5 separate regions of the Homo sapiens genome follow, and regions 1, 3, 4 and 5 are each reported to be linked to region 2. The links are microRNA targets in miRTarBase. Many come from high-throughput screens and were not tested one by one. Region 2 holds a microRNA gene; each other region holds the end of a gene's coding sequence. Distances are from middle to middle.
The links. Region 2 holds the annotated microRNA hsa-miR-1262 (AUGGGUGAAUUUGUAGAAGGAU, at 979-1,000, shown strand). A microRNA usually pairs through its seed, bases 2 to 8, with sites in the 3' UTR of a target mRNA and lowers its output. Matches are read on the target gene's strand: a 7mer-m8 pairs with bases 2 to 8, a 7mer-A1 pairs with bases 2 to 7 and ends in A, and an 8mer does both.

Region 1: the mRNA of FCRL2 is a reported target of hsa-miR-1262. The part of its 3' UTR that is shown has no 7-base or 8-base seed match.
Region 3: the mRNA of CDC73 is a reported target of hsa-miR-1262. Seed matches in the 3' UTR shown: 7mer-m8 at 5,347-5,353.
Region 4: the mRNA of IRAK2 is a reported target of hsa-miR-1262. Seed matches in the 3' UTR shown: 7mer-m8 at 2,414-2,420.
Region 5: the mRNA of NRF1 is a reported target of hsa-miR-1262. Seed matches in the 3' UTR shown: 7mer-m8 at 1,927-1,933 and 7mer-m8 at 1,969-1,975.

Annotation. Positions count from the first base shown.
Region 1 is chr1:157,741,826-157,748,393 of GRCh38, reverse strand. It overlaps FCRL2 (Fc receptor like 2), which reads left to right. Exons shown (of 12, transcript NM_030764.4): 11 at 1,495-1,523; 12 at 1,620-2,661. The coding sequence ends at 1,658. Among named protein-coding and RNA genes, the nearest start is that of FCRL2, 32 kb to the left of the region's middle.
Region 2 is chr1:68,180,576-68,184,575 of GRCh38, reverse strand. It overlaps MIR1262 (microRNA 1262), which reads left to right and starts at 966; the gene lies at 966-1,058. All of the region lies in intron 2 of WLS (Wnt ligand secretion mediator), which reads left to right. All of the region lies in intron 9 of GNG12-AS1 (GNG12, DIRAS3 and WLS antisense RNA 1), which reads right to left.
Region 3 is chr1:193,249,060-193,255,627 of GRCh38, forward strand. It overlaps CDC73 (cell division cycle 73), which reads left to right. Exons shown (of 17, transcript NM_024529.5): 16 at 671-812; 17 at 1,617-5,756. The coding sequence ends at 1,653. Among named protein-coding and RNA genes, the nearest start is that of LINC01031, 52 kb to the right of the region's middle.
Region 4 is chr3:10,240,659-10,247,226 of GRCh38, forward strand. IRAK2 (interleukin 1 receptor associated kinase 2) reads left to right here. Exons shown (of 13, transcript NM_001570.4): 13 at 1,458-3,087. The coding sequence ends at 1,570. Among named protein-coding and RNA genes, the nearest start is that of TATDN2, 4.5 kb to the right of the region's middle. RefSeq lists a silencer at 1,898-1,967.
Region 5 is chr7:129,753,698-129,760,265 of GRCh38, forward strand. NRF1 (nuclear respiratory factor 1) reads left to right here. Exons shown (of 11, transcript NM_005011.5): 11 at 1,321-3,379. The coding sequence ends at 1,484. It also overlaps the pseudogene RNA5SP244. Among named protein-coding and RNA genes, the nearest start is that of MIR182, 14 kb to the right of the region's middle.

The sequences.
Region 1 (6,568 bases), 90 Mb from region 2:
TGGAGTGCAGTGGTGCAATGTCAGCTCACTGCAATCTCTGCCTGTGAGCTGATACAGGAAAATTGCTTGATTTTCCTCTCTCAGACTCCTGAGTAGCTGGGATGAGAGGCATGCGCCACCACGCCCAGCTAATTTTTGTATTTTTAGTAGAGACAGGGTTTCACCATGGCTGGATTCAAACTCTTGACCTCAAGTGATCCACCCGCCTCAGCCTCCCAAAGTGCTGGGATTACAGGTGTGAGCCACTGCACCCAGCCAGCAATAGAGGCTTTAATACATCACTTGCCCTTGATAGGAAATCTGTTGATCCAGGAGGGAGCAAGAGACACCTGGAGGTAGGCTCTTGTGAAGAGAGCAAACTTAAAAAAAAAAATAGGGTGATGGTCTAATGAGTCTTCATTTGAATCGGGTTAGATAGTCAGGGAGAATCTAAGATTCAAGGCAAAAGAAGGAAATCAGGCAAGAGTGAGCATGTCTAAAGTCCAAGAGGAATTCTCTCAGGTGAACAGGGTCATTAAAGTGTCTCTTTTGAAGGATCTGTAGTCTTCATATGGGATGGGAGGAATAACTGAATAAATCAACATGACCTAGAGAATTTTCACTTTGACACGTAGCTTTGCAGGAACTGCTGAGTTCTGCAGCAGTGCAGAGGAGTGTCCTTTAAGCTTCTGCTCCAGTGCCCTTAAAACTACAATGCTTATATCAACAACCCTAAAAGCTGTCCTTTGTTCTGTACTCCTGGTTGCCTCTGATGGAGCCAGTGGCTGTTGACAGCTTGGCTGATTTCCTGGTCAGTGGTCATCTAGCTACTCTCCTCTGAGCCTCTGAAGGTGGGTCCTCTGTCTGCCTTGCTTAGATTTGCCACTTCAACTTCCTATAGGGAGTTGATTACCCTATCATTCTCTTTCTCTATCTGACCAGCCTAGCAGAATCAAAAAGTGCAGTCACTTTCCAAGCCCTCTAGCTGTAAATCTTCAAGGGAAGGAAAGGGATGTCATCCCACTATGCCTACCTGGAAAAAGGGGAAAAGAAGCAGACATCACTAAGCAGCTCCTGCAACCAGACTCAAAATACTATGTGATTCAGAGTCTGTCTTCTGTTATCTATGCTTCTATTCCAATTTCCTTCTATGTAGTGAGGTGAACCACACATGATTGGTTATCTCAGGAACATAGAGAAAGAACAGGAAACAGCCCTGACAGAATGCTGCAACAGAGAAGTCAAGAGGAAAAAATTATAAAGACAATGACCTATGGGAAGTTGCATTAGAGAAAGGAAGCGCTTTGTTAGTAAGTGCTGGTGGAGGGCTTGGAAGATGGATAGAGTCTTAGAAGGACTTCAGTATTAACAACTTTAAGAAAGGATTTTACAGAACAGGAGAAAATGGGATTCCACATACTAAGCATAGTAGTTCTATGCCCTGGGGCATAAAGTCTGGGAGTGAGGCCTAATTAAGAATGCAAGAGCTCAGAACTATTACTTTTTCCTTAACAGCAAACATCAGGACACTTCTGGAGAACAAGGTGAGCTAGACACCTTGGAATTTCTTCATCTTTCCTTCCTTCTCCCTATTTATTTTCTTGATCACCTCAGTCTTTATTCCTGTGTGTCTCTCCCAGGACTCCCAAGTCATCTACTCTTCTGTGAAGAAATCATAACACTTGGAGGAATCAGAAGGGAAGATCAACAGCAAGGATGGGGCATCATTAAGACTTGCTATAAAACCTTATGAAAATGCTTGAGGCTTATCACCTGCCACAGCCAGAACGTGCCTCAGGAGGCACCTCCTGTCATTTTTGTCCTGATGATGTTTCTTCTCCAATATCTTCTTTTACCTATCAATATTCATTGAACTGCTGCTACATCCAGACACTGTGCAAATAAATTATTTCTGCTACCTTCTCTTAAGCAATCAGTGTGTAAAGATTTGAGGGAAGAATGAATAAGAGATACAAGGTCTCACCTTCATCTACTGTGAAGTGATGAGAACAGGACTTGATAGTGGTGTATTAACTTATTTATGTGCTGCTGGATACAGTTTGCTAATATTTTGTTGAGAATTTTTGCAAATATGTTCATTGGGAATATTGGCCTGAAATTTTCTTTTCCACTGTGTCTCTGCCAGAATGTTTGTATCAGGCTGATGCTGGCTTCATAGAATGAGTTAGGCAGGAGCCCTTCCTCCTTGATTTTTTGGCATAGTTTCAGCAGGATTGGTACCAGTTATTCTTTCTGCATCTTGTAGAATTCAGCTATGAATCCATCTGGTCTAGGGCTTTTGTGTTGGTTGGTAAGTTTTTTATTACTAATTCAACTTCAGCGCTTGATATTGGTCTAGGAGGGGTTTCTGTCTCTTCCTGGTTCAATCTTGGGAGATTGTGTGTTTCCAGGAATTTAGCCGTTTCCTCCAGATTTTCTTCTTTATGTGCATCGACTTGAGTGTAAACATAACTTATATGCACTGGGAAACCAAAAAATCTGTGTGACTTGCTTTATTGCAGCATTTGTTTTATTTTGGTAGTCTGGAACTGAACCTGCAATATCACCAAAGTATGCATATAGTTGCAAAAATGTGATTTTTGACATAGTAAATATGAGTATTTGCAATAAACTATGATATTACTTTTGTAAGTATATAGAATAAAATGTAAATAATCTATAGATTTGATACTATCATATTTTCTTTTTTCTGTGAATGCACATTTTCCTTTTTTTCTTTCTTCCAACTTGTATTTTAGGTTCAGGGGGTACATGTGTGGGTGTGTTATATGGGTAAATTGCATGTCACAGGGGTTTGGTGTACAGATTACAGATTGGTATAGATTGTTACCAAGGTAATCAGCATTGTACTCAATAGGTAATTTTTCTCTTTCTTTCTTTTTTTTTTTCTTTTTTTTTGACGGAGTCTTGCTCTGTCACCCAGGCTGGAGCGCAGTGGCATGATCTTGGCTCACTGCAAGCTCGCCTTCTGGGTTCACCCCATTCTCCTGCCTCAGCCTCCCAAGTGGCTGGGACTACAGGCATCCACCACCACCCCCGGCTAATTTTTTGTATCTTTAGTAGAGACGGGTTTTCACCGTGTTAGCCAGGATGGTCTCGATCTCCTGACCTCGTGATCTACCCACCTCGGCCTCCCAAAGTGCTGGGATTACAGGCATGAGCCAATGCGCCCTCAATAGGTAATTTTTCAATCCTCACTCTCTCCTCACCCTCCACCCTCAAGTAGACCCCAGCGTCTATTGTTGTCTTCTTTTTCAAAGAAAAATTTTAAATTTTTGTGGGTATGTAGTAAGTGTATATATTTATGGGGTACATGAGATACTTAGTAAGTATATACATTTATGGGGTACATGAGATGTTTTGATACAGGCATGCAATGTGTAATAATCATGCCATGAAGAATGGGGTATCCATCCTCCCAAGCATTTATCCTTTGCATTTAAAACAATCCAGTTACATTAAGTTATTGTAAAATATAAAATTAAGTTATTACCAATTATAATTGTGCTATTAATAAGTAGGTCTTATTCATTCTTTTTATTTTGTTGTACCTATTAACCATCCCCACCTTGCCCCCTATTGTTCCCTTCGCTGCGTGCATGTGATTTTTTTTTAAAAATTTTATGGCTGTGAATGCACATTTTCATTGGCATTTTTTCATTCAAAATTTTAGGTGCAATGTAATTCATCTTTATTTCTGAAAATGTTTTACTGATCACTTTAATTTAAAAAAATTTCTGTGATCATAAGGCTCTGTGTTAAAACATTTCTTCTGCTTTGAATTATCTTTAGAATTATTATAGGTACAAAACTGATCAAAACTATGGGAATAAATTACACATTTTTTCAAAAATTATTAAACATAAAAAGGTAAATTGTATTAAAATCCACCTCTTAATGACTCATTGGAGTACTTTTTAACATTTTCGAATTGAAACATGTATCCACAAATAAATTTAGTCAACTGATTCACCAGACATTTATTGAAAATCTACAAGAACCAAGTGTTAGGGATATAGAATGTAAGTCTGCAAAAATCTCAACCCTCGATTTTATTTTAATTTTCTTTTTTACAGATGTCAGCACTGAGAAACCTTCACGTGAATAGACAGATTGGAATAAAATGACTTTTTATTTTTAAAAAATAGAAGTTTTACACAATTTTTTTAAGACTTGTCTAAGGATCATTAATGTGTCTTTATCACTTAAAAACACCTTGTTGAACCCAAATACACATGAAACATTGAGAAAAATAAGAATACCCCAACCTGCTTGACTGTCCTCCTTAGAAGCACACTTAAACAGTGATCTCCTTTAACTGGCCATTGGTCCTGTCCAGTGATGGCTGTAGGTAGGCACCATGGCCATGCCTTCAGTATTCTGATAGCTGCTGGCTCCAGGGTTAATTGTAGGGATGAGGTTACCCCATTTTGTGATAACCCCATGGGACATCCCAACTTTCAGTCCCGGATGCTCAGAGATGAGAAATTAGGTGGTGGATGTTTAGGGTGCTTAATTCCTATGAAGTTCTTTCCCAGGGACACTCAAAGGTATTTCCATTTATTTGCTTCTATCTACATGAAATCTTATCAAAATTTCTGTTGTATATGTGTCATTGTGCTTACACACATTTCTCCTAATTTTTGTTTCTTTGGTCATTTTAATGGTAATATGAAAAGAAATTCAGCATGAAAATAAAAATAATAATGAGGATGATAATAATCTTGAAACAAATATCTCTCTTCTTTATGATACTTTCTTTACTGCTTTTTTATTTATTTATTTATTTTGAGGCAGGGTTTTGCTCTGTCACCCACACTGGAGTGCAGTGGCATGATCATAGCTTACTGTTTTGACGTCCTGGGCTCAAGTGGTCCTCCTGCCACAGCCTTACAAATAGCTGAAACTACAGGCACATGCCACCTTGCTCAGATAATTTTAAAGATATTTTTGTAGAGATGAGGGTCTCACAATGTTGCCCAGTCCAGTCTTGAACTCCTGGCCTCAAGTGATCCTCCAGCCTTGGCCTCCCAAAGTGCTGAGATTATAGACATGAGCCAGTGTTCATGGTCATAATTTGTTAAATTTATATAAATATCACTTTTTTCTCATCTTCACTGTCTATTCTGAACTGTAATTCTGTTCCCTTATTTTGGTCTGTCCATTCTTGGCAGCTATCATGCTAATTTTATTTTTAGAGTTTAAGATGTATGATTATATTATAGCTGATATTTCCTCGTTAGCCATTGTTAAAAATAATAGCTAGTAAAATGAGTTTTGAGAGAAATTACTAAAGTGGGAGAAATTATTCTTCCTGATGTTAAGGATTATTATATAGCTACAGTAATAATGACAGGATGTTACTGGTGGAAGGATAGACACATAGGTCAGTGGAACAGAACACAGAACTCCAAAACAGACCTACACAAATATGCTCAAATGATTTTTGACAGTCTATAAAGCAATCGAAAGGAGGAAGGGTAATCTTTTCAATAAATAGTACTCAAGAGATTGGACATCCATAAGCAAAGGAAATGAACCTTAACTTAAGTCTCACATCCTATATAAAAATTAATTCAAAATGGATCACATGCTTAAGTGTAACATGTAAAAATTTAGTAAATTTAGAGAAAAACATGTGAAAAAAATCTTTGGGATGGCATAAGGTTAGGTAAAGAGGTCTTAGAGTTGACACTAAAATAAAGAATAGAAAACATTTATAAAAGAAAAAGTCACTGAATTGGATCTCTTCAAAATTAAAAATCTTACTCTGTAAGAGATCCTGTTAATAGAATGAAAAAGCAATTTAAAGGTTTAGATAAAACATTTGTATCCAATATCCAACAAATGACTTGTATCTAGACATTATCAAGAGCTATCAAATGCAACAGTAAAAATAAACAATCCAATTTAAAAATGGACAAAACGTGAACACTCTCCAAAGAGGATTTAAATACAGAAAATAGATAATAAGCACATGAAAAGTTATTCAACATTAGCCATTAGAAAAATATAAATTAAAATAACAATGAGATATCATTACACATCTATCAGAATGGCTAAAATGAAAAATGGTAATCATGTCGCCTTACAAGGAGATATGACATTCTCTAAGCATCCAGGACTGAAAGTTGGGATGTCCCATGGGATTATCAAAAAAATGGGGTAACCTCATCCCTACAATTAACCCTAGAGCCAGCAGCTATCAGAACACCGAAGGCATGGCCATGGTGCCTACCTACAGCCATCACTGGACAGGACCAACGGCCAGTTAAAGGAGATCACTGTTTAAATGAGCTTTTAAGGAGGACAGTCAAGCAGGTTGGGGTATTCTTATTTTTCTCAATGTTTCCTGTATACTTGGATTAAACAAGGTGTCTTTAAGTGATAAAGACACATTAATGATCCTTAGAAAAATTGTGTGAAATTTTTATTTTTTTTAAGTAAAAAGTCATTTTATTCCAATCTACCTATTCTCGTGAATAAGGTTTCTCAGCGCTGGCATACAAGGGATACTGGCAAGGAAACAAAGATTCTAGATCATTCATTCAATTCTGGTGAGAATGTA
Region 2 (4,000 bases):
AGTCAGCCTTAACATTTAGAGTCTGGATGTATTATGAATCACTGATAAAAATGATTATTTACCTGATGGTATTAGACCTCTTGGTAAGGCCAAGTTCTGTTATTTGAAAATATATTCTAGAGTGTTTTTGTTTTGTTAACATGCCATTCTAAAATACTTTCCCAAATATACCATTTTTTAAAAAGTCACTCTATGCATTAGGAAAAGAAAGGTTTGGGTTGGCTAAAACGGTACCCACTGGAAATGGGTTGTCACTCTAATGATTACAACTGCAAGTCATACACTTAGTATACCCCAGACTCTCCAAGGGCTTCTTTTGAGAAACCTGGGTGCATAGATCAAAGTTAGAGAATTTGTTTACATATCTCTCTTTCCAGCTTTCAAATCTATAAGCTGTTGAAATAGAAGCACTAGAGCCATTGGCAGAAAGCCTCAAGATGGATAGCTGTGTCTTGAGTAGTAAATCTAGGAGTTTCAGGGGTTGAAAAATTCCTGAGACTGAAAAAATATTGGTAAATGATGAAGGGTAGGGGAAAGCCAGAATAATGTCAGTCCTATTCTTACGTAATGAAAGCATTATGTTTCGCCTTGATCCTTGTGCTGTACACTGGAACCCAGTGTTGTCTTACTTGTTTCATTATTGCAAATGGTCACATGAAGCAGAATTCTTTCTATAAGTGGCAAGTGATTTTTCTTTCCCCACACTGAAAGCATTTCTGTATAACAAATTTCTAGTTAAAGTAATTAGAATGATATTATTACCAGTCAGTTTTCAAGTTAGATGGCTGAGTGTCCTGGGAGAATGTTGACTGACTTTTGGCAGAGTAATTGTGCTTTTCCATTTGTCCATTTATTATGGAATGTTAAGTGGACATCAAGGGAAGACAACTGGAATAAAGGGAACAATCTATTGATCATAAACAATTCTCTGAATTTCATCCTTCTACAAATTCACCCCTCACATTATCTACAATGGTGATGGGTGAATTTGTAGAAGGATGAAAGTCAAAGAATCCTTCTGGGAACTAATTTTTGGCCTTCAACAAGAATTGTGATATTTAATTCTGTGTTTTCTGATGCTTCTGAGGAAAGCTCCATAAAGAGAGCTGAATGGGGCAGAGGATTTTATACACTATAAGAACTATCCCTGCTATGATGGAACAGGCCATTGGTAGTATGATATTCACATAATTGTATTTCTGTGCTTCAGCAGATAGTCCTTATTAATAAAATATGTTGAAGCAACTGCTAAGAAGAAATGTATAACTCTACTCTCCCACCCCTACTACTACTCCCACCAAAAAGAGGTCTTCTTTCATTTACGACCATGTCTTCTTTAATTTATGACTATGTTATAGCCTGTGTTAAAACTATCTAACATTTTGGCTGGGCACAGTGGTTCACACCTGTAATCCCAGCACATTGGGAGGCTGAGGTGGGTGGATCACCTGAGGTCAGGAGTTCAAGACCAGCCTGACCAATATGGTGAAACCCTGTCTATACAAAAATTAGCCCAGCATGGTGGCGTGTGCCTGTAATCCCAGCTACTTGGGAGGCTGAGGCAGGAGAATCACTTGAACCTGGGAGGTGGAGGTTGCAGCAAGCCGAGATCGCACCACTGCACTCCAGCCTGGGCAACAGAGCAACTCTGTCTCAAACAAAAAAAACCTCTAACATTCTAATTAGATAGTTTTCATTGTTGGCTAGTGTCACTAGAATTTTAAAGTTACCTTTTAAGTTTCTTTACCACAATTTGAGTCAATGCAAGCAGAAATAAAAACTTCAAATTCTCCCTTTGTTCTCCTCCTCCCTCCTCTCCCACCAAAAAAGGCAAGTTGAAAAGCTCAAAATACATCAAAAAGATCTCAGAGACTTAAATGGAGTAGGGTTTGTAGTGTTAGGTAAATGGTACGGAAGTTGTCAGTATTCAAGATGGGCTTACATGGCCAGTCTTCTTTACTCTTATTGAATTGTGTGCCCCTTCAAACCAAGGCTGGAACCTGGAAGTTACCAGTATGAATCAGTTTTACTTACTGACTTGGTATAGAAAGCAACTGAAATCATGGGAGAAAACTATATTTTGTTTACCCCAGGATAGAGAAGATTAGGGACATGATGTTTGTTTGCTCATGAATTATCTCTCCCTTTGAGGAAATCTTCAGGCACTTCTTGACAGCTCTTCCTTTGGAATTGACCGTTGTGAGCATGTTATATTGGCAGGAGCATGGGAACCTTTGGCTTTGAGTGTGATTATTGTTAAGCACATTACTTGGACAACATCATTATAAGGCTCCTCCATAGGCATCGCTATAGAGCTCTATCTGGCTTGGTGGGTTTTGTTAAGTATTTGCAAATGAAAAATTCCAATTCAGAAACAGTAGGGCTCCTCCAAAACCTTTCCAAGATTTTAAAATTAGTATCTATAGTTTGGTATATCTAGTTACATACACTTTCTTCTAGTCATCTATTGGTTACTGGTCAATTTAACATTGTTGAGTAGATTGTGTTAGATTAGTCTCTAGTCTTAACAAAACACTCTTCTATGGTGTTGAATAATTTGCAGAAATTGTTACTAAACATCAGCTGTTTTATTTTAGCTTGGAGTGCTGAAAGGAATACTAGAGGGCTGCTGGTCTAACAATCATCAACCAAGCAGTTTAGACTGGAGTGTAAGGGCTAAGAGAACCCCTTGATACTCTACATAAAATTTCAGTGGTATTTGCTTATATGCATTTTTGAAGTAAGAGTGTTTGTGGTTCTTGTCAGGTTTGCAAATGGGTGGTTGACCCAAGTTAAAGCACTAATCCTTTAATTTAGCAGCTGGAGAAAGCTTGAACTCTGTGGTACTCGCCCACGGTGGCACAGCTGGCTGGAGCCAGGGCAGGATCTCCTCGTTGTACATCAGTGGTGTAGATAGGTAGATGGTACCTAACAACACGTGCACCACCCCATACAGGTGAGTCAGCCTTCTACCAAACAGCGGACTCTAAGATCCTTGCACAGAAGATGCACTGGTCTTTCTAAAATGATATATTTTCAATTTTTTAAAATCTCCCAATCAGTATTTCAGGGAATGAAGTGCAGTCTAGAATCTAGACTAGGTGGTAGGCTGGCCCTGTTTATAGTGCCACAGCTGCAGATCACCCACGTGTCTCATTTCCTGCTCTGAGTTTAGAATATAAATGAGGATATTCTCTTTGCATCCATACAAGTATATCCTGATTACTAAAATAAAAACCTGGTGACATCATTGACTAATGTGAAGAGCAGAGAAGCCAGAAGCAGCACATCCCTTAATGGTGCCCCCAATGTATAGAAGGTATTTTTTTGTTTTCACCTCCTCTTCTAACTTTGGGTCTTTCAGTATTTAAATGCCAGCTGGTCATAACATAGCTATTATGAGGTTCTTTTATGGGGAATTCACAACTTTATCTTGGTTAACTTAAAAAAATGAAGTTAAGATTATTTTCTGGATTATATTTTTCTAAGCAAAAGGAAGTTAAATGAGAGCAAGGCAGAATTCTGCTTGCAAAAGTGCTAGGGACTCTACATTGGAAAAAACCATTTTCCCCAACCCTACCTATTGTCTACACACTGATGCTAGAAACAGTTCCAGATCCTCTTTTGCTTTAGTGAGTCATTAGTAATGGTGTTAGTAGAGAGATAGTAGTAATTCTTTATAGGAAGAAGAGGTTCTGGCTTTGTTCTGGTCCAGGTTGTTTGCTAAAATAATTGCATAGTGAATCTATCTCTCTTGTGTTGGGGTGATCAGACCCAACACCAGGTTGTGGGGGTGACAAAGTCCAGCAGAGTCAAAGGATTGAGAAAAAGACAGTTTGAGAGAGAAAGTTGGGACACCAGGGGGCCATCACTAGTGTACAGAGGCTGTGAAGGCCCTGAGCTCTGGGAGCCCATGCTATTTATTGGTAATCCAACAAAGAAACAGGTGGTGAAAATGTGGAGGTCAAAAGAGCAGGCACATGATCTACAGCTGTGATGG
Region 3 (6,568 bases), 130 Mb from region 2:
ATCTTCTGTGAAAGGCAGAGTCAATCAGTGCAGCAAACTTCATTGTTGTCTTATTTTCAGAAATCGCTACAGCCACCCTAACCTTCATCAACCACCACACCCTGTTCAGTCAACAGCCATCAACATTGAGGCATAATCCTACACCAGCAAAAAAAATTAGGACTTGCTAAAGGCTCAGATGATTGTTAGCATTTTTTAGCAAGAAAGTACATTTTAATTAGGGGATGTACACTGTTTTTTAGACATAATGCTATTGCACACGTAATATAGACTGTGATACAGTGTTAACGTAACTACGTAACTTTTATAAAAATGCAATGAGGTACCAGGAAATATGCGTAACTCATTTTATTATGATACTTTATTGCGGTGGTCTGGAACTGAACCCACAATATCTCCAAGGTATGGTTGCACTCTTATGTTTCTGTGATAACGTACCAACCTTATAGTCTTTCTTACTGTCCTTCACTAGACTATATGCATTTTATCTTACCTTATTCCTCATTTTAGTGTCCAGTGGCTGGCGTGTATAAACCCTGAATGTTTTTAAAGATAATATTTTAAAAGATCACTTTAGTTATAATACGGCTTCAGTTGGTGGAATAAAGAAATTTTTTTCTTTTTTTTTATTTTGAGTAAAAATGATAACTTCTCTCCACCCTCTCTATAGTTAAAGCCTTCCATCTGAAGTATGATGAAGTTCGTCTGGATCCAAATGTTCAGAAATGGGATGTAACAGTATTAGAACTCAGCTATCACAAACGTCATTTGGATAGACCAGTGTTCTTACGGTTTTGGGAAACATTGGACAGGTAATTCCGATTCTAAAATATGCTTGTGTGTGTTTTATTGTAATTTTTCTGTCTCAGTTAAATTTTAAGTTCCATAGAGTTGTCAGTCTTATTCCCTAATTCCCTTCTTTCAACATTAACTTGATGCTTATCTTCAGTACATAATTAACAATTTTTTATTGTATAATTACTTTAGTTGGAGAATTTAGCCTGATAGAAGTAACACTAAACTGAGTCAGAAGACTTAGACTTTAGTCTTGGTTTTGTAATCTGTCTCTAATTATCTGTGTGACCTTTTTGAACCTTATTTTCTATCCAAGGAACTTTGGATTAAGAGAACCCTGTGTTTTTTGCAAGTACTGAAAGATCTATGATTCTGGATTTATTTGTGTTACGGATGGTTCACAAAAGGAAATGGTTTTTTAAAATTTATTTTAATTACTAGTATAGTGTTCATAAAGCCCTTTACATTAATAACAGTTTTGTAATCGGCAAATTTAAGAACAGCCTATAATCACAGTAAATACCACTGAATCGGTTCTCTTTGAGGTATGCTCCTTAAAATCTGTAACATTTTTGGTGCAAGTCTCTCATATCTGTGAAACATATATTATTTTAGCTAGAAGCTCTTAGATTATATTACTTAATAAGAGGAGTGTTATTTCTAGCTTATTCCAGAGTCTTTATATTTCCAGTTTTCTAGAAAACAGCATTTTATTCTGTTGATTTTAAGTTTTAAGAAATGTCAACTTGTTTTTACATGCATTATTCTAAAAATTCTAAAATTCCTATAGTCATTATAACCTACCATAATATTTTTTTCAGGTACATGGTAAAGCATAAATCGCACTTGAGATTCTGAATTATTTGGCTCCTCCATTTCTGGAAATTGAGACTCAAGCTTTATGAATTTATCAAGAACTTAAAAATGAAGAAGGTCACAGATTGATCTTTTATAAGACCTTATTTGATGCTTTGTGCTTCAAGGAGATGATACCTGTCATCCATATAAGCAAACTTTTTGGCTTACAACTATTTTTTTAATATTAGCCTTCTAGTCTGTAATGGAAATTGTATATTTTGATAGAAGTTTTTTCTCCATTGGTTAAATTAGCATTACTTAAAATTTGTTTCTTTAGAAAATAAATGCAGGTTATAAATGTGTGTATATTTAGAGATTATAAGGCTCTCTGAGCCATCTTCTGATTTTTCATTGCTCTATAATTCTTTTTACTGAAAATACTATGTTATGAATGGTATTAAATTTTAGTCTCTGGAACATCCAAAACCAAGCAAAGGGATGTGACTATTTTGAATGAATCAGAATGTCAACTTGTATGTACACTATATCTACACTTACTCATTATTTAAAAAGAATAATGAAAAATCTAGATCAATTCTTCAATTTGATTGAACTGTTCAGCCTTTTCAAGATTTCTTTATTTACAAATGATTACATTTAAATGAATGTACATTCTTCTCACTGACTTTGGTGATTTTGAAACCTAGAATGATGTGTTTCTATCTGTAATATCTTTCCATTTGAAAAAAATCTCAAAACACAGATTAAAACCACAATAGGCTGTAGTATTTTTTATTTTGGGAGCCAGAGTATGATTTGGGGGAAGAATATGTATCAGCCCTATTGCAGTATAACTTTAAGCTCCTTTTCTCTTTAGTCCACTTTTGATTGTAATTTTTATGGTATAGGATTTTGAATCTTCTATTTTAGGCTTGTCAGTCTTGGAGTTCTTATCTTCCATTATCCCTAAATATTGATAAACTCCCAGGCACCAAAGAAAACATTTGCTTAATTGTCTGAAAAGAAACAAGAGAAAAACACTGGTATTTTTATGTCTGTATTCAATATGGTATAAAATATAAAAACTATATTTTAACTTAGTGAAATATTTTACTATTTCTCTACTTCAGACAAAATGTTGCATCCAAGGTACATCAAGTGACCATTTGCCTTGAACCTTGATTTCACTTTGTTTTTTTTTTTTCCTTAAAGGCAACTAGGAAGCTTTACTTTCCTAAAGTGTTTTTGCCATTGGAATTTTTGCTGATCACAGTCTTATGTCATTTTTTTCTCTGTTTTTATTCCCAGCAATTTTCTCCTAGGTTAACATATTTTTGGTGAACGTTTAGGCCTTTCATAGGTATTAAGCTGACATTATCTAGCTTCTTAATGAAATTTAACACTGTCACAAAAATGAGAAGTTATTATTTTTTAAGTGATCACATAGTTCATACCACTAGTAACTAGAAAAGATATTTATTCACATGATATTTACAAGGCTCTTCAGAAGGGAACAGTCAGCATTTTAAATTACTAGATTTTAGCATACTTAACAAGGTTTGAACAGATTCTACCCCTATTTTCCTCCCTTTTTAGCGTCTTCTTTCCTTAAAGATAAAAGAAAACTCAAATTTGTTTACATTAGGCTTTCTTAGCATATAAATATATTTCCAAAATAAATTACATGTTGTGTAAACTTTCTCCATGATGAAATAGTCAAGGACCAGAATCTGTAATATTTTTATGTAAGATTACTTGTCAAGACTACTACAAGTCAGTATGAACTACCTTCCCATAAAGATTTTTGGTATTTGTACTTATTTATGAACTTTACTTGAGACAGAATATGGTTAAAATTAGGAACATCTACTTTGAATGAGGTTTATTTTTCTATTTTGAATTTGCCTTATGTATATTCAAAGGCTTATGGAAATACTGTAAAGGAACATTAGGAAAAGGACAAATAGGCTATAACCATCTATCTTAAAATCAGACCCTTAGTATAAGCACCTCTTTTTCTTTTCCTCTTTGACAATTTAGTCTCTTATTTAGGTCCATGTAATTAATTTCATTCCATTATTTTTTAGCTGTTTATTCTAAAAAACAAAAATTTTCAGCCACTCCCATTTATTCTCCCATGACATGGTCCTATATAGCAGTACTTAACACAGTGCCTTGCACATAGTAGGCATTCAGTAAATACTTACATGCATGAATGAATAATGTATTTTCAGTGTAACAAATTTATTATAAAAGTGTAGTTCGACTCTTCTTGGTCTTGGAGTTTGAGAGTACAGAATTACAGGGAATGAAGAGAGGTATAAGTAGATATTTTAATGGAAATGAAGTATAAATTAATAACTTGACTTACCCCTCCATAAGTTACTGCTAACTGGAGATACCCTTGTATGCCCAACCTGTAAAGGAAAAAGTTCTATTTCTATATTTATAGGACATTCTTCTCAGTCAAGGAACAGTAAGAAATATGTAGGTTTCAATCAGTTGCTCTCAACCCTGACTGCATTTTAGAATCATTTGGAGAGTTTTTAAAAATATCCATGCCTGAATCTTGATTCCCATTTTCATGTAATTTGAGACAAGACCTGGTCATCAGTATTTTTTTTAAAGTTCTCCAGGTAATTTGAATGTGCAGGAAGGATTCAGAATCACTGGTTTAATTTGTTATTGAAAACAGTACCAGTATTAAATGTGTTTCCTCTTCCTTCTTTTCTGTATGTATGTGTGGTTTTTGATTTTTTGTTGTTGTTGTTGTTTTGTGGCCACCCTTTGCACTAGACCATCCCTTTTATTGGTGGTATTGGCCTATATTCCCATTGACAAATGCAATTTTTAATTATTTATTTAATATAGGAGTATTTTACTGTTTAATATTTAAACAATGTTTAATGTATTTCATTATTAACTAGTATTATAGTTTGTTTTTTTCCCATGTCTCCATAACTTTTACTAACATTTGTTTTTAGCAGCACAACAGTAATCCATATAAAAACAACTAATTCATAATGAGGAAAATCTCATAATTTTTAAGGCAGAAAGAAGTATTAATTTTTGATCTGCCATGTAGAATGAGACAAATACAGTTTGCTTATGAAAGGAAAGTGGCATACTTTTAAATTGGTCTACACAGAAAAGTAAAAGTAAACTATTCATTTAAATAAGATTCATTATCTAATAAATATTGAGGGAATATTTTTCCTAAATAAAAATTTTTCTGACTGCTAACAAAAATTAAAGTGATTACATTGTTCTTTTTTGGAGGGGTGGGGAGGAATATTTGTTGAACTAAAGTATATAAAATTTTTTGAGACTAGCAGTATATTTTATAATATTACAAATACAACAATTATTTATAAAAGCTAGTCAAATTAATGGCTTAGAAAGTAGCTGTAAACTTTGTGTTTTGAAATTGCTTGTTTAAATGCAAAATTATGAGTAAGATAAGTCTTTTTAAATTTTTTATTTTTAATTTTTTTGGAAGTTTATTAAAGCCCTTCATATACACATACTTTTTAAAAAAAGATTCTTAATAAAGAAATTATTGGTTTGTCTGGTTAAAGTCCATATAGAATGCTGAGAAATAATTTATAAAATAAGAACTATAGAAATTTGTTCTCAGCTGAAAAGTTGGCAGCTGCTCTGTTTCTTTAAAAAAGTACAACATGAAAATTTAATTACATTAGCCTTAATATTACTTGACTGAATTTCTACTATTTATTCACTTGTGTTTGAGATTCACCCAGCTATTCTAATGATAGAAATAAAAAGTGGAGAAATGACTAAAGTTGACTTAAGTTAAGAATTGGAGTGGGAATTTTGAAATGCCATGTCCTATATATTCTGGCATATTTGTTGGCACATTTGCAAGTATGTTGATCCCAGCATTGTTTATATCTGTTGGAATAATAACTAAGGAAAAATTGAAAATGTATAATAGATGTATAAAGATTTATATTTAGTTAGTATATAATAGATAATACTTGCAGGTTTTTTATGTGTTTTGGGTTTCTGTGTATTATTTTAGGTAATCTTTATAAGGGCATCTTGGAAGTTATAAATATGTGCCATTTACTGAAAAGTGGGAAGCATTTTTATATGAGTAAAGCTAATGAAATAAAACTAGTTTTATTGCCAAAATTCAAAAAGTGGGGTTCATGCTATGTCGAATTTAAGCAAATGATCTGTCTGAGGATTTTGTTTGCCATTGAATTCCATTTCTGTCCACTTTAAATTTACTAAAAGCTATTTAACCTGAGTTTGATTATAATGCTTCATAAGTAATGCAGTTCATGTACATAGAGTAAGTGCTGTAAGTGATTTTTTAACCACCAGTTGGTGCTGTTTCTCAAAGTGGTTCTTAATTAGAGTTTAAGTTTGGGTGCCATGTGAACTCATAAAATATTCTACTCATTCTTTTTGTTTTTCTTTGTTTTGTTTTCTTTGTTTTATTTTTCATTCTGTTTGTTTTTCTTTGTTTGTTTTTGAGATGGAGTCTCACTCTGTCACCCAGGCTGGAGTGCAGTGCTGCGATCTTGGCTCACTGCAGCCTCCACCTCCTGGGTTCATGCAGTTCTCCTGCCTCAGCCTCCCGAGTAGCTGGGATTATGGGTGTGCACCACCACACCTGGCTATATTTGTATTTTTTAGTGGAGACAGAGTTTCACCATGTTAGCCAGGCTGGTCTTGAACTCCTGACCTCAGGTGATCCACCTGCCTCGGCTTCCCAAAATGTTGGGATTACAGGCGTGAGCCACCATGCCTGGCCTGTTCTGTTCATTCTGATTCCAGTTTGGTGGGCTCTTAAATTTTAGGTTCAATTGTAAATAAAACATGTTGCCCTATTTTGTTTTAAGAGCACTAGGGACATTTCCATTCTCCCTTTGTCCTCAATCCCCCAAAAACATTCATACGAAGAAGTTAGAAGCTGTATTGTGGGCTGGAATGCTATCTTTACATG
Region 4 (6,568 bases), not on the chromosome of region 2:
AAGTGATTCTCCTGTCTCAGCCTCCCGAGTAGCTGGGATTACAGGCATGTGCCACCATGCCTGGCTAATTTTGTATTTTTAGTAGAGACAGGGTTTCTCCATGTTGGTCAGGCTGGTCTTGAACTCCCAACCTCAGGTGATCCGCCCACCTCGGCCTCCCAAAGTGCTAGGATTATAGGTATGAGCCACCGCACCCGACCAGGAAGGCCCTTTCAATGCAGTGTCCCTGTCCCTTAGTAAACATGGTTCAATGAATGTCCCAGGCTCTGACCACTCCTGTTTCTCTTTTACTCCTCCTGCCATGGGGAGGGGAGAGGAAGAAGAAAGACAGGATGTGAGCATTTTTTTCACTCCACCCTCCCACCCCTCAACATCATAAATAGGAACAGGGAAACCCTCTCCTTTCTGGAAGGCCAGGGTAGGTTGCAGGGCTTCCTGCAAAGACAGAGGAGATGAAAATGCTCATTACAGCTGGGTGCAGTGGCTCATACCTGTAATCCTAGTACTTCGGGAGGACGAGGTGGGCTGATTGCTTGAGCCCAGGAGTATAAAGATCAGCCTGGGCAACATGGTGAAAACCTGTCTCTACGAAAGATGCAAAAATTAGCCAGGTGTGGCCAGCCAGGCATGGTGACTCACGCCTGTAATCCTAACACTTTGGGAGGCTGAGGCGGGCGGATCACGAGGTCAGGAGATCGAGACCATCCTGGCTAAGATGGTGAAACCCCGTCTCTACTAAAAATACAAAAAATTAGTTGGGCGTGGTGGTGGGCGCCTATAATCCCAGCTACTCAGGAGGCTAAGTCAGGAGAATTGCTTGAACCCAGGAGGCAGAGGTTGCAGTGAGCCGAGATTGAGCCACTGCACTCCAGCCTGGGCAACAGAGTGAGACTCCATCTCAACAAATGATAAATAAATAAATAAATAAATAAATGGGCTGGGTGCTGTGGCTCACAGGCCGGGCGTGGTGGCTCACGCCTGTCTGTAATCCTAGGACTTCGGGAGGCCGAGGCGGGTGGGTTGCCTGAGCTCAGGAGTTCAAGCCTAGTCTGGGCAACACGGTGAAACCCCTTCTCTACTAAAACACAAAAAAATTAACTGTGTGTGTCGTCCAGCCTGAGCAACAGAGTGAGACTCCATCTCAAAAAAAAAAAAAAAAAAAAAAAAAGCCAGGTGTGGTTGTGCACGCCTGTAGTCCCTGCTACTCCGGAGACTGAGGTGGGAGGATCACCTGAACCTGTGAGGTCAAGGTTGCCTTGAGCTGAAATTGTGCCACTGCACTCCAGCCTGGGCAACAAAGTGAGACCCTGTCTCGATAAAAAAAAAAGAAAAAAAAAAAAAGAAATGCTCATTACACTCAGGGCCTGATTCAGAAACCTGATTTAAGTGACTTTAAGAATTATAATAATAGTAACTTTCATTCAAGTCGCTCTTGTTTGCTTTCTGTTGAACATCAGTTACAGAAACTTCGTGGCAAATTGAGATCAATGAGGCCAAAAGGAAACTGATGGAGAATATTCTGCTCTACAAAGAGGAAAAAGTGGACAGCATTGAGCTCTTTGGCCCCTGATGACCGGAACACAGCTGAGGACCCTTGTCCTCAGTTGGAAAGATGAGCATCAGATCAAGAAAAAGGTCTGAGGCAGAATCCAAGATCTGCCAGGAAACACACAACAAAACATCTGCTGTCCTGGGTGGGAGGGAAACTTCATTTCACTGGAATGAGTTGGGAGAGAAAGGCCCTCAGCTTTTAGAGACACAAAAATCCATGAAGTCTCTTCCTTTCTGGGCTTTGTTAGTCAGAGCAGGGGATCAGAGGAGACTGAAGCAGAAACCCTGCACACGGGCCCAGGATGTGGCTGATTTTGTGGTTCCGGGGAGTATGTGATGATAATCACCCCCAGCAGATTCCATTACCTCAGCAGCTCTTGTTCCCCCGCCACTGGCAGTTCTGCAATGCCATAGCATTTTCCAGAGCTAAGATCTCTGGGTTGTATTTGCTGACAGCCTGCAAGCTTGCATGCTCTGAAAGATTTTTTTTAGTTTTTAATTTTTTTGTAGAGATGGGGTCTCGCTTTGTTGGCGCAATCCTCCCACCTCAGACTCCCAAAGTGCTGGAATTACAGTTGGGAGCCACTGTGCCTGGCCTGGAAGACTTTCAACTTGTGTCTCAGTGCAGTTCTTGACTCACCTCTCTGGGCCTCAGGTTCTACAAATGCCAGACACCTAGCGAAGAGCTCTGCAGGCTTTCCACTGCCTGTATTGGAAATCTTGCAATTCACATAATTATTCAGTCACTGCCTGGTACCTTTATCTTCCCATCCCACTAATGTTAGTGTTTTTTAATGGAGCTTTTATTCTGAGAATATGTGTTTGTCTGTTTGTTTGTTTTTTGAGACAGAGTCTCACTTTGTCACCCAGGCTGGAGTGCAGTGGCACGATCTCAGCTCACTGCAAGCTCTGCCTCTCAGGTTCAAGTGATTCTCCTGCCTCAGCCTCCTGAGTAGATGGGACTGTAGGCACCTGCCACTATGCCTGGCTAATTTTTGTGTTTTTAGTAGAGACAGGGTTTCACCATATTGGCCAGGCTGGTCTCGAACTACTGACCTCGTGATCTGCCCGCCTTGGCCTATCAAAGTGTTGGGATTACAGGCTTGAGCCACCGCACCCGGCCGAGAATATGTGTTGTTATTTATGACTGGATTATGAAGAATCAGGAGAATGCATTTCATGTCTGATTCTGCTGCTAATTAAGTCAATCATTTAATTTTTGGGACCTCAGTTTCTTTGTAAGTAAAATAACACCTGCTTGTTCTTCATCCCTGGGCTGTTGGGAGGAACAGATGAGACAGTGGCTATAGAAGCACTTGGAAAATGCACTTGTCCTGTTTTGTAAAATAAAAAGGTATTAAATGTGTATTTCTGCCATGTACCTAATGATTATTCAGTGCGTATATATCTGAAAAGTCATGTTGCAAATCTTTCTGTGAAACAGATGCTATTTTAAATTCACTGGGAGAAATATCCTATTTAAAGTAATCTATAGTAATTTCTTTTTATATAATAAAAATATATTTGTAAAGTCGACAGACAACTTGTAATTAGTTTTGTGTCTGGAAGAATTTGTTTAGAGAAGGCACTCTGTATCCTTGAGATGGGGTAGCAAAGAGCTAGGATCCTGGCTCTTACTGTTGACTGTTAATAGCTGCATGATCTTGGGCCCAGTTAGGGAGTTACTCTGAGGCTCTGTTTCCTCATCTGTACAATGGGAAAAAGAAAACGTACGCATCTTGTAGGGTTGTTGTTGGATGGGTCCTGCCTGGTGAAACATTTGGCAGCTCCCCAGTAAGGACAGCTTTGGCTTGATGTGTGATGTAGCTGAGCTGGGTCCCAGTCCAGGTGGACAGTGATCTATACAGACAGCCCTGTCTTCAGCTCTGGTGTCTGTGAGGATTCAAGGTGAATGTGCATTTTGTGCCCCAAATGGGACCTGGCCTGTTGCGAACACTTTACAATTATAAGCAGAGTGTTTCCAGGGCTGTTTGCGCAATAGAGGGCTGACACCAATAGGTTTGTGGTTATCCAGACATACTTACATTTCTAGACTAGGATTTCATATATTTTTGGAGAAGTCAGTAAATCCCCTTGGGACTTGGATGAAAGCTCTAGACCTTTGCTACATACAGACATACATACATATGCGTTCTGAGTCCATGAATTCCAGACCTTCATGGGCACCATGATGTCTTTTCATGGATCCCCCGTAGGGAAGCCCTGAATTATTTTTTTTTAGGTTAATAGAGGATTTAAAAATCTAAACAGTACAAAGGTTCCATGGTGAGAAGGCAGGCTTTTTCTCAATGGGATCTTAGTCTCCAGTTTCTTGTTCCCAAAGGCAACCACTGTCACTAGGTTGGAGTATCCTTCCAGAGGTGATGGAAAACAGAGGTGATGCTCAACTTAGTCATCAGGGAAATGCAAATCAAGACCTCTATGAGATGCCACTTCACATTCACTAGGATAGCTATAATCAAAAAGACAAAAACAAGTGTTGGCCATGATGTGGAGAAATTGGAGCCCACACACACTGTTGGTGGGAATTGAAAATGGTGAGCACTTTGGAAAACAGTTTGGCACTTCCTCAAAAGGTAAGAATTTCCATATGACCTAGCAATTCTACCCCTAGGTATCTACCCAAGAGAAATGAAAACATGTCCACACAAAAGCCTGCACACCAATGTTTATAACAGCCAAAAAATAGGAACAACCTAAATATCCATCAACTGATAAGTGGATACATGAAATGCGGTCTATTCATGCAATGGAATATTCAGCCATAGAAAAGAATTAAGTACTTGTGAAAAGTAAAGTAGAGGTTCCTCTTCAAAGACTTTCCTCCCCATCTAATTAGGAATAAATAGTAACTTCTCTTAGAAGCAAAATTTATTCAAAGACCTAACATTCTTAAATACCTGCTAGCCATAATAAATCAATGTACTTTATGTTCTTAACTCCCACAATTTAGCCTAAATATTTGCCCTGGCACGGTTATACTGGTGCAAGCAAGCATTAAGTCATAGCCTGTTCCTCTTCCTTATTTGAAAGTGTTTTTACCTTTCTCAGCATTCCACAAGTTACTTCCTCCTTCCTTTGTTCTCCTCTGCTTTTGCCTCTGAAAAAATTCTAAGTTGTTAGCCAATCAAGACAAATACAGAATGTGAAGTCCCGTTTCAGCCAATGGAAACTGGACCCAGAGGTAGGGTGGATACGTCAGGTTATAAATGACCCTGTCTCCTTTGTTGGGTGTACTCGTGGCAAAACTGCTGGCGAGTGTACCCTTTCTGCAGAAAGTGTAAAAATGGCCTTGCTGAGAAAATTATTTATGTTCAAGTGCTATTTCTTTATGGCACTGGGGAACAAGCATTTCAAACATACTGACACGTTACAACATGGATGAACCTTGAGATCATGGTAAGAAAAAGCAAGTCACATATTGTATGATTCCATTTTTAATTTTTTCAGAATAGGCAAATCTATCAAGACAAACTAGATTACAGTCTTGCTGAAATTACAGGAGTGAGCCACCAGGCCAGCTGGTCATACACCTGTTTTCTTTCTTCTTTTTTGTTTTGAGACAGAGTCTCCCTCTGTTGCCTAGGCTGGAGTGCAATGGCACGATATTGGCTCATTGCAACCTCTGCCTTCCAGATTCAAGCGATTCTACTGCCTCAGCCTCCTGAATAGCTGGGATTACAGGCACATGCCACCATGCCCTACTAATTTTTGTATTTCTTTTTAGTAGAGATGGGGTTTCACCATATTGTTGAGGCTGGTCTTGAACTCCTGACCTTGTGATCTGCCCACCTTGGCCTCCCAAATTGCTGGGATTACAGGCGTGAGCCACCATGCCTGCTGCTCATACACTTTAAATGAGTGAACTTTATGGTATATAAATTATATCTTAAAGCTGTTAGAAAGGAACACACAAAGTGGTTACCCTCAGGCATTTGAAAAAAGAAAGCCACATTTACCTTTGTATGCCACTCCTCTCTATTTAGCCACACATGTGTTTTGTTAATGCTTTTCTAGGTCCTTTGTTTTTTCATGTCTTTCTTGGCTATTGCTCCTCAACAGTAAGTTTAGATCACTTCATTCTTTTTGCCTTACATTCCATTGTATGGATATTCCTTAATGTATATAACCAGCTGATAGAGATTGAGGTTTTGTTTTCATTCTAGCTACTACAGACAATGCCACCTTCCAAGGAGATTGTATCAATTAACACGTTCATCAGGGATGTATGGGAGTGCATTTCCTCACATCCTCAGCCACAAGGTATATTATCCTGCTTTTTTTTTTTTTTTGAGATGGAGTCTTGCTCTGTTGCCCAGGCTGGAGTGCAGTAGCGTGATCTTGGTTCACTGCAAGCTCTGCCTCCCGGGTTCACACCATTCTCCTGCCTCAGCCTCCTGAGTAGCTGGGACTACAGGCATCTGCCACCAGGCCCGGCTAATTTTTGTTTTTTTTTTTGTATTTTTAGTAGAGATGGGGTTTCACCATGTTAGCCAGGATGGTCTCGATCTCCTGACCTCGTGATCCACCCACCTCGGCCTCCCAAGGTGCGGGGATTACAGGCGTGAGCCACCGCACCCGGCCCCTTACCTTGTTTTTTGATTATTGCCAATCTAACGAGTGGAAAATTATAATTTTATATGTACTTTTTAATTTAATTTAATTAATTAATTTTTTTTTTTTAGAGACGGAGTCTCTCACCCAGGCTGAAGTGCAGTGGCGCAATCTTGGCTCACTGCAAGCTCCACCTCCTGGGTTCACGCCATTCTCCTGCCTCAGCCTCCCGAGTAGCTGGGACTACAGGCGCCTGCCACCACGCCTGGCTAATTTTTGTATTTTTAGTAGAGGCGGGGTTTCACCGTATTAGCCAGGATGGTCTCGATCTCCTGACCTCGTGATCTGCCCGCCTTGGCCTCCCAAAGTGCTGGGATCACAGGCGTGAGCCACCACACCTGGCCTTACATGTACTTTTTTAATGGTTGAGGTGGAGCCATCT
Region 5 (6,568 bases), not on the chromosome of region 2:
AATAGTGATATTAGGGAGTAGCTGGGGTCTTTTTTTTTTAAGTTGACCCCAAAATGTGTTTTTACATTTTACTGGTGTGTGAAATCTAGAAATCAGGAAACAAGTGACCTAGGCTTTAAAAATAAATAAATAAATAAAATAAGCTTGACTATGAAGGAAGGCACATAGACGGAGCAGTGGCCAGAAGACAGGATAGGAGAGGGACAAGATTTTTCTTTTCAAGCTGAGAGAGACTTAAGCATAGGCAGAAAGAGGGTTGAAGAAGGCAGTGTAGCCAAATATCAAAGAAAAATAATGGTGGCCTGTTCTGAGAGGGAGAAGACAGGCCGGGGACATTCACACCTGACGGGCCTGTGCTTCCTAGATGCGGAGGCAGGCAGGGCCCTCTCACGGCAAGCTGGGAAGGCCCTACCCTAAGGCATGTTTCCACAATTTCTCTAAACTTTTCTTTTCTGATAGTCTGTTTTAAAAAAATCAAAATGGTCAGGGTTGGTGGTTCACGCCTGTAATCCCAGCTATTCAGGAGGCCAAGGTGGGAGGATCACTTGAGGCCACGAGTTCAAGACCAGCCTGGGCAACACAGCAAGACTCCATCTCAAAAAAAAAAAAAATTATATTAGCCAGGCATGGTGGCACACGCCTGTGGTTCCAGCTACTCAGGAGACCGAGGTGAGAGGATCACTTGAATCCAGGAGTTCGAGGTTGCAGTGAGCTGTGGTCACGCCACTGCACTCCAGCCTAGGCTACAGAGCCAGACCCTGTCTCTTAAAAAAAAAAAAAAAAAAAGTTAAAATGGAAAAAAGTTGATTTCCTAGAAGTAGAGAGTAGAATAATAGTTACCAGAGTCTGGGGAAGGGTTGGGGAGGGGGGCAGGAGAGGTTGGCCAGCAGGTGCAAAGGAAGAATAAGTTCTGGTGTTCAGTTACACAGTAGGGTGACTGTAGCGAATAACAATGTAGTCTGTGTTTCAAGATAGCTAGATTTTGAATGTTGTCACCACAATGAATGATAAATCTTTAAAGAGATTAATATGGTAATTTTCTTGATTTGATCATTCTACAGTGTATACATGCATTGAAACATCACATTGTACCCCATAAACATGAACAGTTACTATATATCAATTATAAATCTTAAAAATTAATGAAAAAAATTTTAATGGGGTGGGAAAGAGATGTCTTTGTGCCTGGGCCATGGGTATGTGATCACCTGAGGCTGGTGACCACGATACCTCAAAGGCAAGACTTGGGTGCCCCCGTCCAGCCAGCATCTGGGAACTTGAGCCTGAGCCCCACCAACGGTCTTCTCTTTGTCTCTCCAGGCCTGGTCCAGATCCCTGTGAGCATGTACCAGACTGTGGTGACCAGCCTCGCCCAGGGCAACGGACCAGTGCAGGTGGCCATGGCCCCTGTGACCACCAGGATATCAGACAGCGCAGTCACCATGGACGGCCAAGCTGTGGAGGTGGTGACATTGGAACAGTGACATACAGCCATATTATGGCATCGTTTTCTAGTCTACTTCAAAATTTTTTACACGTTTGCAGAGGTGCAATCAAATGGAATTAAGTCTCTCGACTTTGGAAGGAAAGTTTTGTTAACCTTTTTTTTTTTAAAAGGAAGAAAGCGGATTTTGGAATTGCATTTTTTAAAGCACCACTCTTGATTTTCTGGGATTGGTGAAGAAACTGCATTGTCAATTTCACTGTCCCAAAAAAGCCAAATTGTGGCAGGACTTCTTTCTGCGGAAATGTGTGTGTATACTTATGTGTGTGTATGTGTGAGTGTGAATATATGTATATGTGTACATATGGACATACACATTTACATATATATAAAGTATATATATACATATATATATATATATATGTATGAAACCCGCATGGAATTATCTGTATGAAATCAAGGTGCGCTGTGGAAACAATAATTCACCCAGTTTAGTGGGTGGTAGGGTACGTGGCCAGACACAGTCACCCAGTTTTTGTTCATACCAGGGTCATGCGTTGAGCTACTGACAAACTCAGGCGGAGGTGACCATGCCCTTCACCAAAGCTGCCTCCCAGTGGCCACACAGAACTCTCCCTGCTGGACTCACCTGAGGAAAGAGGCTCCAGCATGGGGTGGGTCAGAGATGTGCTTGCAAGGTCCAGGGACTGCGTGGTCTGCCAGCTGAGATGCTCCTCGGGCTGGCCCAGGTGCTGACCTTGCCACAGGCAGATGAATGTCTTGAAAGCTCCCGGGCCTCAGCCTCCCATCTCCTCTCCTTCCCAGGAATCCTTGATCTCATGACTATTAAAATGTTGCTCTGGTTTTAAGGTCAGTCCTGAATTGCTCGTATATATGAACTGAAGGTAACCGAAGTATTAGGGGTTTGAGGAGTGCGTGCGTGTAAGTGTGCTTGTGTGTGTGCGTGCATGGTGGGGGAGAGGATGGGAAGGGGGCGGGGGCAGTGGAAGGGAAAGGAAGGAAAGAAAAATCGTCCTAGACCAGGATACACCCGTGGGAGCAATTTTCTCTACTGTCTGTAGCTTCACAGAGGAGGCGCTGGAATGAACAAGAAGAGACATCTGGTCTGTGGCCACAGCACCCTGAACGCCCCTGATCTTGTGTGATCTTGGAAGCTAAGCTTGGTTGGGCCCGGTCAGTACGCGGAAGGGAAGAAGGGACACCTGGCCATAGAAAACAGCTGAGGGTGTTTGCTGTGTTCCTGGATCAGGCCCTGCTTCAGAAGGGACTCCTGGAGGCCCATGTTCCTTGATGCAACCTCGTGGCCCAGGCCGGGAGCAGCTTGCCTCCTCAGAGGTGTTGACTATCTGGGTGTTCTTGGTAACCGTTAACTCTGTCTTTCTCAGCTGCAAGCCCTGAGTCTCCAGTAGCTGAATTCACCTGACTTTTCAACAGGCCAAATCTCTGAACCTTGAGTACAGGGACAGCTCCTCCTCCCTCCTCCCAGCTCTCCCCATGTGTGTGATGGTGTATTTAATGTGTTTTTTTAATGCGACATTAAAAGATTCTCCACGTCTTGCTCAACCTTTGAGAGAAGTTTCAGATTCTTGTATTTGCTTGTTTTATATAAAACTATCTAATGTTCTTTATATGTTCTTTTCTGTACGTAATGGGGGGAGGGGAGGGAAATTTACATATAAATAGTCCTAGTTCTACAATTTGTTATTTTTTTAATTATTATTTTTTATCGTCATTGTGAAGTTGTCCAGGGACTTTAAAGTCCATGTTCCTTTGTGGTGAAATAACCTCCAAATAGTTTGAGAAGTTGCCAAGACGAAGAAAAAAGCAAAACCCCAGTAGCAGAGCATGGATTCTGTGTTGTTTCCCATTCTGTCTTTGACTGCCTCATTCAATAAATAGTTAAAAATGTGGCAACAGGAAGTGGAATTGTTCATCTCTATAGGAGCTCTTGGCTTCTTAGGCAAAAGGAACTCTATCTTGGGGCAGCTCGTTCTGCGTTTAAAATGCAGTCCTACTCGAGATCAGCGGTCTCCGACCTGTGCCACTCCGACGCTGGGGACCTCCGTAAAGAAGACACTGAAGATTGCCCAGAGCCCCCTGCGAGCCCCATCACCAGACCTGCTCCATTTCATACATTTCATATATAACGTGTTTTCTTATACTGACGTTCTGGGGAAAAAATCGTATTTAAAAAATCCTAGGCCGGGCACAGTGGCTCCCGCCTGTAATCCCAGCACTTTGGGAGGCCAAGGTGAGTGGATCACTTGAGGTCAGGAGTTCCAGACCAGCCTGGCCAACATGGTGAAACCTTGTCTCTACTAAAAATAGAAAAATTAGCTGGGCATGGTGGCGGGCGCCTGTAATCCCAGCTATTCAGGAGGCTGAGGCAGGAGAATCGCTTGAACCCAGGAGGCGGAAGTTGCAGTGAGCTGAGATCACACCACTGCACTCCAACCTGGGCAACAGAGCGAGACTCCATCTCAAAAAAAAAATAAAAATAAAAAATGAGGGTGAGTGATGGTGCCTCTCCATCTTGGGAATTACTATTAAAGTGAATTGTCTTTCTTTCTCCAAGCAGAAGCCTCAAGCCATGACTTGTTCCCCTGCATCCTCACTCCCTGGTTTCTCACACAGCTTACTCTCTTAACATGGCATATGCCATCGCTCCAGCTGTTCCTCCTGCCCCATCCTTAGGCCCTTCATAGACCCCAGTAGCCTGCACCTCCATGCTTCTGCATGCCCTGGCCTCAGCCTGGAATGACCTGCTGTCACCCCCACCACCCTTTCTTTATATTGTTGGGTGTCTTGGCCACTTTCCTGGTGACCATGATTAGAATGCTTGCTTGGATGGGAAGGCCAAGAAGCCTTTTCCTTGATGCCTGATGGTGGTTCAGTGAAGCCAAGTGCCTACCTTTCCCCCTTCTTGCACAAATGGCATACCCTCGCCTATTTTTCACCAGAGACTGGACTAGAAAAAGGATTGAGTGCAGCCAAATCAACCACACATCCGTGCTATTGACTACCATGAAATAGCTGGGTTGTTTAGAATACCTGCTGACCAAGGGTCTCTCCAGAGGCGTCTTCTAGCTGCTGTTTGCCTGGCAAGCCTCAGATGCTGCCTTTGCCACAGGCATGTATTGACAACTGGTTTTGGTGGGGCCGATGGAGACCTCTTCCATTCCTGCCTAAGTCACCAACAGGAGCTGCTAACTCCGCTGTCTATAGAGACCAGGGAGGTCAAATCAATGAAGGAAGCTGAGGCAATTCCCATGTGAGAGGAGGGAGTGATGGGGACAGGCACAGTGGACAGCATCCATCTAAACGGGGCAGCCTGTCCTAGGTGCTGATTGTCACCATGCAGGAAGATGGACCCTAATGCCCCAACTTCAAAATTGTCCAGAGAATCTGGGGAATCCAGATTTTTGTACGAGATGTGATCGCAACAAATAAAAAATTTACATACTCTGCAAGCAAAATAAAACCCATCTGTAGACCAGACCTGACCTGACGGTCAGTTGCACTTAACTACGTGAATGCTTGTCATGTGCCAGGTGAATGAAGCATGGTAGTTGCCTGTGAGAAACAAGGAGTGAGGAGGAGACCTTTACATAAACCAACCGCTGCAGTCCAAGGTGATGAGGCACCATCTGGACAGAGCACTAGTGCAGAATGAGCTGTTTACCGCATTTGAGCCCTCAAAGGTCCTCTGTTACGTAGTTTATCATCTAGGCTCCACACAAGGATCTGGTGCTCACAGAAACCAGGAGACTGGTCTAAAAGTTACTGGCTTTAAGTCTTGCATCTGAGAAGGCCCACTGGTGATACAGGTGACTACTGGCATTCTCCAAACTTGAACAAATTAGCTGAGGAGAACCAGAAGGGCAGAGCAGAGGAGGGGTTCCTTGCCCTGGGCCTCACTCACGCCCAAGGAACGCTCTCTCCCCCTCTCAGTAATGCCTCCGAAGCTTGAGCTCTGGGCATGGCAGAGTCGTACCGGGCTCCTGGTGTTTCCTTTTGGTGTCAGCACCAAAACTCATCAGGGAGGAAACTGGAGCTTAATTATTTGGAGCAGAAGCTACGTGGGGTGAGGGAGTAGAGTCCGTGTTTTCCCTCTCACTCCACCTCAGCAGGCTGGTGGCACCTTGGTCATCACAACTGGGGCTTCAGATGCCCCATCCCTGCACTCCCACCCGGCCTCTGCTGTTTACTCCAGGAGGCAGCTCTTGGAGGTCACCCAGGATGCTGGCGGCAGCATGGAGGAAGGGGTACAATAGAGAGGGGAGGCAGGGCTCCGGGACTGGGCTCCGACTGAAATCACTGAAGAGCGTGGGTTTCCTCTTAGTCCCCAAGCCCCTCTGAATATGAGTTTCTCCATCCTGAAAACCACTGGGCTGCTACCAAACATTTGTTGAGTATTGGAGGCCTGGAATATATAGTGAGGAAAGGAGGAAGAAGGGATAACAGTCATCTGCAGAGGGGAACCAAGGTGCCCTGAGAACCTAGAGCCTCCTTAGGAGGCAGGAATAGGCCTGGGTCCTGAGCCCTCTCCAGGGCTCAAGCTTTGCTAGCTTGCTTACGAGAACTATGGTTTGTCTACACAGAGTGTATGGTAGCAATGATAACAGTGAACACTTAGCCCTTACAATATGCCTTGTACTGTATTAAAAGATTTACCTATATATTAATTTATTTAACCTTTACAAAATACTATCATCCCCGTTTTATAGATGAGCAAACTGAAATACAGAGAGGTTAAGTTAAACAACTGAGCCAAGTTCACACTGCTGGTAAGAGGCAGAGCTAAGGTACAAACCTGGGCGGGCAGGCTGGCTGGTCCCAGAATCTGTGCCTAGAAAAACATGACTTGAGCCTCATCACTCTGTCACCCAGGCTGGAGTGCAGTGGTGTGATCTCGGCTCACTGCAACCTCCACCTCCCGAGTTCAAGCAATTCTCCTGCCTCAGCCTCCCTAGTAGCTGGGATTACAGGTGCCCACCACACCCAGCTAATTTTTTTGTATTTTTAGTAGAGATGGGCTTTCACCCTGTTGGCCAAGCTGGTCTTGAACTGACCTCAAGTGATCCACCTGCCTCAGCCTCTCTT